Homo sapiens: one gene and its partner. The protein of the gene in region 2 purifies or fractionates together with the protein of the main gene of each other region. This does not show direct contact. Each region holds a gene or a part of one and is shown on either strand. Other genes may lie near its edges.

Region 1 (3,500 bases), on a different chromosome or scaffold from region 2:
AAAGGGCTGAAATCTTCACCTACTCATTAGGAGAAACATTTCTAGCCTAGGGTTGAGAGTGCAAGCTCTGGAGCCAGAGGGACTTGAGTTCCAACCCTGACTGTGCCGCCTATCATGGGTGCCTGGGGCACGTCCTGGACCCCAGAGTCTCAGTCTTCCCATCTGTAATGTGGCTTTTTTTTTTTTGATACGGAGTCTCACTCTGTTGCCCAGGCTGGAATGCAATGGTGCGATCTCAGCTCACTGCCACCTCCGCCTCCCAGATTCAAGCAATTCTCCTGCCTCAGCCTCCTGAGTAGCTGGGATTACAGGCTCCCACCATCACACCCGGCTAATTTTTTGTATTTTTAGTAGAGACAGGGTTTCTCCATGTTGCCCAGGCTGGTCTCGAACTCCTGACCTCACGTGATCCACCCATCTCGGCCTGCCAAAGTGGTGGGATTACAGGCATGAGCCACTGTGCCCAGCCTGAAGTGGCTTTTTAATAAGAGTGTGAGAATTTAACTGAGCGAACACGTGGACGGCTCTGGGCACAGCTCCTGGCGTGCAGCAAGCATGATAAACATAGCTACTGTTCGTGTAGTAGACGGAGCAGATGGAAAGCCCTCCTTGCTCCCAGACATGGCAGTTTGAGAAAAGTGTCATTTTTTTCTCACTTTATATGCACATATCTGTACATGTGCACGCATATAGAAATAGTTGACGTTCTGTCTCTCTCTTAATGTAATAGAAATGCAATCACTGTATATCCATTGGTCTTTGTCTGCTTTTTTCCTCCCCGTAACTAGGTGTGATAGCTGGGTCTCAGGTCAGCACGCAGAGACCTCGGGCTTTGTCACAGCATCTGGTTTCCCATGTCCGGTGGCTCCATAGCTGTTTAGGCTGTTCCCAGTTTTGTGCCATTTCTGATGGTGCCATGGCAGGCACCTGTCACCTCTGCATGGGATGGCTGGCTGAAGGCTCTGTTGAGCTTCTCCTGCTTCATGGGCCAAACTGAACCATCCCTTCTCCCAGCCTTCCCACCTCCAGGGCTGTACCTAGGTTGTTTCCTCTTCCAGCACTGATTCTGGTGTGGCACAGAAAGATGAAGGGAATTCCACAGGGCCCTAAATTGAGTTAGTTGCCTGGTCCTGGCCCAGGAGTTTCTCCTTCTGGTGGTCTGGGGTGGGGGCAGGGCTGCAGCGAGTGGGGGCTGCACTGTGGTCGGCATGGGAGTCTCTGTGAAGGCCGGGACATTCCAGGTGCTCAGCAGCCCTCAGCCCTGCACAGGGTCACGGGCCCTGTGCTTTTTGCAGGGGTTGGGGAAGGAGGGATGGTTTCAGGTGACCCTTCTCAGCCTGGGTCCCCCACCCCTCCCAGACTTTCTTCCTGCCCTCAAGCCTGGGGTCAGCAGGTTCCCAGGCCGGGGCGTTTACAGAGCCACAGACCGTGGCTCAAGGAGATGAGGAGAAGACGGGAGCTGAGGCTCTGGGATGGCGTCAGAGGCTGGGCTAGGCCATCCACCTTGCTGGGTTCAAATCTGGCTTCTCCACGCACCAGCTGTGACATAAGCAGTTGTCTTCACCTCCCCAAGCCTCAGTTTCCCCTCTGTAAAAACAGGGTGGGGGTACCTTCCTCACCATCAGAGGATAGTGTAAATACCTTTAGCATATAATAAGTGCTCAATATGTGCAGTGCACTCCGATTATTAGTTGGTGTTTGGAGAACTCAGTCCTCTGGGCTTGGGGCATTGATTACACATCCCAGCCATTCCACGGAGGGGACATGGGAATGGGTGAGACAGGGCCTCTCCTCTTGCATGCTGGCGGAGGGGGCAGGCACAAATTGGCAGCTTAATTCAGCGTGACAGGTGTGCAGATGCTGCGGGAGCCAGGGCAGGGCACCATCAGAACTGCTCGGGTCAGGGTGGAGATGGGAAAGGATGGAGGGAATAGGCCATGTCACATCTGGGCTTTGAAGGTAGGAGGCGCCATGGGGAGAAGCGGAGGAAGGGTACTCCAGGCAGAGGGCCCAGCACCAGCAAAGGCCTGGGGCAGGTGTGGGTACAGGAGATCCTGAGGGTTGGGGAGTTGGGTAGGCAAGGCAAGGATGTAGGCAGGTTTCCATTCTGTGACACTGCCTCTAGGGAGGGACCGAGGGGCAGATGGAGAGGCCACTCACTGTAGTTGTCCAGGCAAGAGCCAGGCAGTGATGATGGCCTGGATGGGTCAAAGTTGGAGAGGAGAGAAGTTGGGGAGCGAGAGCTCAGGGGAAGATGGCCCGCTTCCATCTTTCCCCTGCCATTCATTCCTCAAGACCTACTGAGAACTCTCTGCACAGCCCCACCCCTAGGGCCATGACATTCACCCCTCAGCCACAGGGACTCCCCCCAGCCATTTGGGCCCAAATGACTTTGCAAGCTCAGGGCTTCTCGCTGCCTGGGGATTCAGGGCTCTTGAAGAGAACACGGACGTCCTCACCCATCCTCCTGGAGTCCCCAGCAGGGGACCCTGTGTGGTACCTGAGTTTCCTCTCTTTGGGTCTGTTTCAGGAACTGGTGCTCCTATGTGGTGACCCGCACCATCTCATGCCATGTGCAGAATGGCACCTACCTTCAGCGAGTGCTGCAGAACTGCCCCTGGCCCATGAGCTGTCCGGGGAGCAGGTAAATGAGGTGGAGAAGGAACTGATGGCATTCCAGGTGGAGGCACAGTTTGGGCAAAGGCCTGGTTGGGGGACTGCATGGGGAGTGTGGGGGAAGACTGGACCCCAGGGTGGGCGGAGCAAAGGTAGCATCAGCCGACACCATTCTCAGCCTATCCCCTGTGCTGTTGAAGCACCCTGGAGGGCTTCCTGAGGGATGGATACACCATTTGCCTGCATTCCTTTACTCAGTGAGTATTCACGCTGGGCTCAGGCCAGCCCAGCCTGCAGGGTCTTCTTGTCCAGCTGGTATCCAATCTCCAATCCCTGTGGCAAGGTGGTGGGGGGATGGAAGGGCTGAATCCCAAAATGCAGGAGAGAGCCTCCAAAGGGACCTGGAGGCAGCAGAGGATCCTGGAAGCTCTAGGTTTGTCCCCATGGGTGTCCAGGGCAGTGGGAGAGGTCATGGAGGACCCTGTCTCAGCTGGGCCACCTGGGGACTCTTTCAGCTACAGAACTGTGGTGAGACCCACATACAAGGTGATGTACAAGATAGTGACCGCCCGTGAGTGGAGGTGCTGCCCTGGGCACTCAGGAGTGAGCTGCGAGGAAGGTAGGACTGCCCGGCCGGCTCCCGGAGCCCTGCGACAGCAGGCCAGGTGCCTCCCTGCAGGTGCATGGAGCCGTGAACTATTAAGAGAGTCATGCACAGTACCATGCCTGCTGGGGCCAGCTGCACAGAGCCTGGCTCAGACACAGTCAGTGCTTGTTGTCCCCCCTGCCCCCCACGGTGACCGCTTGCCTCTTGGGAGACTCTCAGGACCCCCAGAAGAATTTTATATATGCTGCATAGCTCACATTTTAAGTCATGCTATCCT
Region 2 (3,065 bases):
AGTTTTTGAGACAGGGCCTAACTCTGTTACCCAGACCGGAGGGCAGTGGCTCAATCTCAGCTCACTGCAACCTCAAACTCTTGGGCTCAAGTAATCCTCCCACCTCCGCCTTCTGAGAAGCTGAGGCCACCAGGCACAAGCCACCATGTCTGGCTAATGTTTTTTTTTTTTTTTTTTTCAGACGGAGTCTCGCTCTGTCGCCCATGCTGGAGTGCAGTGATGCGATCTCGGCTCACTGCAAGCTCTGCCTCCCGGGTTCACTCCATTCTTCTGCCTCAGCCTCCCGAGTGGCTGGGACTACAGGCGCATGCCGCCATGCCCGGCTAATTTTTTTTTTTTTTTTTTTAGTAGAGACGGGGTTTCACTGTGTTAGCCAGGATGGTCTCGATCTCCTGACCTCGTGATCCACCCACCTCGGCCTTCCAAAGTGCTGGGATTACAGTTGTGAGCCACCACGCCCGGCCATGCCTGGCTAATTTTTAAATTTTGTGTAGAGACAGGGTCTCGCCATGTTGCCCAGGCTAGTCTCAAAATCCTGGGCTCAATCGATCCTCCCGCCTCGGCCTCCCAAAGTGCTGGGATTACAGGTGTGAGCCACCGTGCCCAGCCCACAGTCTTATAGTGAATGAGTTTGGATATAAATTGGGGAACAAAAGTCGTTTTGCTCCAGAAGGGCACAAAAACAAGGAGCGGAGGTGTCCAGTGTGTCAGAAGAAGCCCCAAAGTGCACCATGTTCACACATAAAGCAGAGGTAGGTTCTAGGCTCTGCTAAACATAAAGGAGCTTCTCCCCTTGGAGGGTGTTTGCTGGGGCTTGAGCAAGTTATTAGGGACCCAGGACAGCTCCCCTTGTGAGCAACAAACCTGTGCACTGCTGGACATTAGGGCCTCTGGGCTCTGGCCCCGTAAATGCAGGTGGTGCCTGTTTGATGATAACATCCCAGAAAGCCCGCAAATTTCCCACATGCCACCTGTTGAGACTGCTCTACTGCCTGCCTCCCACAGCTGCCCGGAGCTAAATTTCCAAGAGAACCTCTCACTCTTACCCCAGGGGTCCAGCCTCCCCCAGGAGCCAGGGTCATCGGCCCCCAGCCTCAATGCCCCTTTCTCCTCCAGGAAACCCTGGAGGACCTGGACAGAAACAAAGATGGCTATGTCCAGGTGGAGGAGTACATCGGTGAGTGGGCCCCAATTTCTTCTTGGGATGCCTGTCCTCTCTCAGGCATGGGCAGGGTTGGTGGGGGTAGCCGGAGGTACATCACCCATCATCAGAGAACAGTGGCCCTCAGACATGGGGGCAGGGGCACTCACTGCTTGAGTTCATTTAGCCACCCAACATTTATTGAGCACCTACTCTATACCAGACACAAAAAGCATCTATTGAGCACCTGCTGTGTGTCACGCCCAGGATACACTTACTGAGCACCTACTGCATATGGGTGGTTGCGCCTACAGCAGACAATAACACAGACAAATCCCTTCTTGGGGGTCTGGAGTTTCTACAAAATCAAGGCTCAGGGGCTATGTTTAGTTGAGAATGGGGGTCAGGAAGCTGGTCTTGAACCTGCGCCTGCACAGCAAACACTGTTTCCTGTTACATGGGATGTTGGGGGATCCTCACAATACCCCCTGAGTTCTGAGTTCTCCCTGGGCCCCTGCCACTGTCCCTGCCCCTAGCGGGCAAAAAATTTAGTCAAGGAGAACGCTAACAAGGAATTTTTTTTTTTTTTTTTTTTTTTTGAGACAGTTTTTTTCTGTTGCTCAGGCTGGAGCGCGGTGGCGTGGTATCGGCTCTCTGCAACCTCCGCCTCCCGGGCTCAAGAGATTCTTCTGCCTCAGCCTCCTGAGTAGCTGGGATTACTGGTGCCTGCCACCACGCCTGGCTAATTTTTGTATTTTTAGTGGAGATGGGATTTCACCATGTTGGCCAGGCTGGTCTAGAACTCCCAACCTCAGGTGATCTGCTCATCTTGGCCTCCCAAAGTGGTGGGATTACAGGCGTGAGCAACCACGCCCGGCCAGGAATTTTTTTTTAAGTTTGAAAACATTGTTTATTCTTTTATTTTTTTCTGACCACATCCTACATGAGAAAACATTTTTCTTTCTTTCCTTCTCTCACTTTCTTTCTTTCTGTCACTCTTTCTTTCTATCTGTCTGTCTGTGTGTGTGTGTGTCTCTCTCTTTATTAAATAGAGATGGGTTCTCACTATATTGTCCAGGCTGGTCTAGAACTCCTGGGCTCAAGCAATCTTCCCACCTTGGCCTCCCAAAGAGCTGAGATTACAGGCATGAATCACCACACCTGGCTGAGAGAACATTTTTATATTTTTTTCTTAAGAGATGGGGTTGGGCCAGGCGCAGTGGCTCATACCTGTAATCCCAGCACTTTGGGAGGCTGAGATGGATGGATCATGAAGTCAGGAGTTCGAGACCAGCCTGGCCAAGATGGTGTACTAAAAATACAAAAATTAGCCGGGCCTGTTGGCAGGAGCCTGTAATCCCAGTTACTCTGGGGACTGAGGCAAGAGAATCTCTGGAACCCGGGAGGCAAAGGTTGCAGTGAGCTGTAATCGCGCCATTGCACTTCAGTCTGGGCAACAAGAGCGAAACTCCATCTTAAAAAAAAAAAAAAAAGATGGGGTCTTGCCCTGTCGCCCAGGCTGGAGTGCAGTGGGGTGATCTTGGCTCACTGCAGCCTTGACCTCCTGGGCTCAAGGGATCCTCCCACCTCAGCCTCCCAAGTAGCTGAGACTCCAGGCACAGTGCGGCCTCTGGAGATACTTCTGGTTGTCACTTCTAGAGGGGTGAGGATGCTACTGACGTCTCCTGGATAGAGCCCAGAGATGCTCCTTAGCATTCTCCGGTGCACAGGACAGGCCCTGACAACAAGGAGGTCACAGGCCCCAGATGCCAGCAGCTGTCCCCATCTCTTTTTTTTTTTTTTTGAGACAGAGTCTCGCTATTGTCGCCCAGGCTGGAGTGCAGTGGCATGATCTCGGCTCACTGCAACCTCCGCCTCCCAGGTTCAAGCAATTCTCTTGTTTCAGCCTCCTGAGTAGGTGGGA

Evidence for each region. The genes of interacting proteins can lie anywhere in the genome.
Region 1: the proteins of RCN3 (region 2) and EMID1 purify together in Homo sapiens (co-immunoprecipitation; one large-scale study listed by IntAct). This does not show direct contact.

The regions. Positions count from the first base shown.
Region 1 is NC_000022.11:29,212,396-29,215,895, forward strand, and holds part of EMID1 (EMI domain-containing protein 1 isoform 1 precursor), read left to right. Parts: intron 1-2,530; coding exon 2,531-2,644; intron 2,645-3,131; coding exon 3,132-3,235; intron 3,236-3,500.
Region 2 is NC_000019.10:49,538,003-49,541,067, forward strand, and holds part of RCN3 (reticulocalbin-3 precursor), read left to right. Parts: intron 1-1,005; coding exon of another isoform or gene 1,006-1,116; coding exon 1,117-1,177; intron 1,178-3,065. UniProt on the Homo sapiens protein: Probable molecular chaperone assisting protein biosynthesis and transport in the endoplasmic reticulum.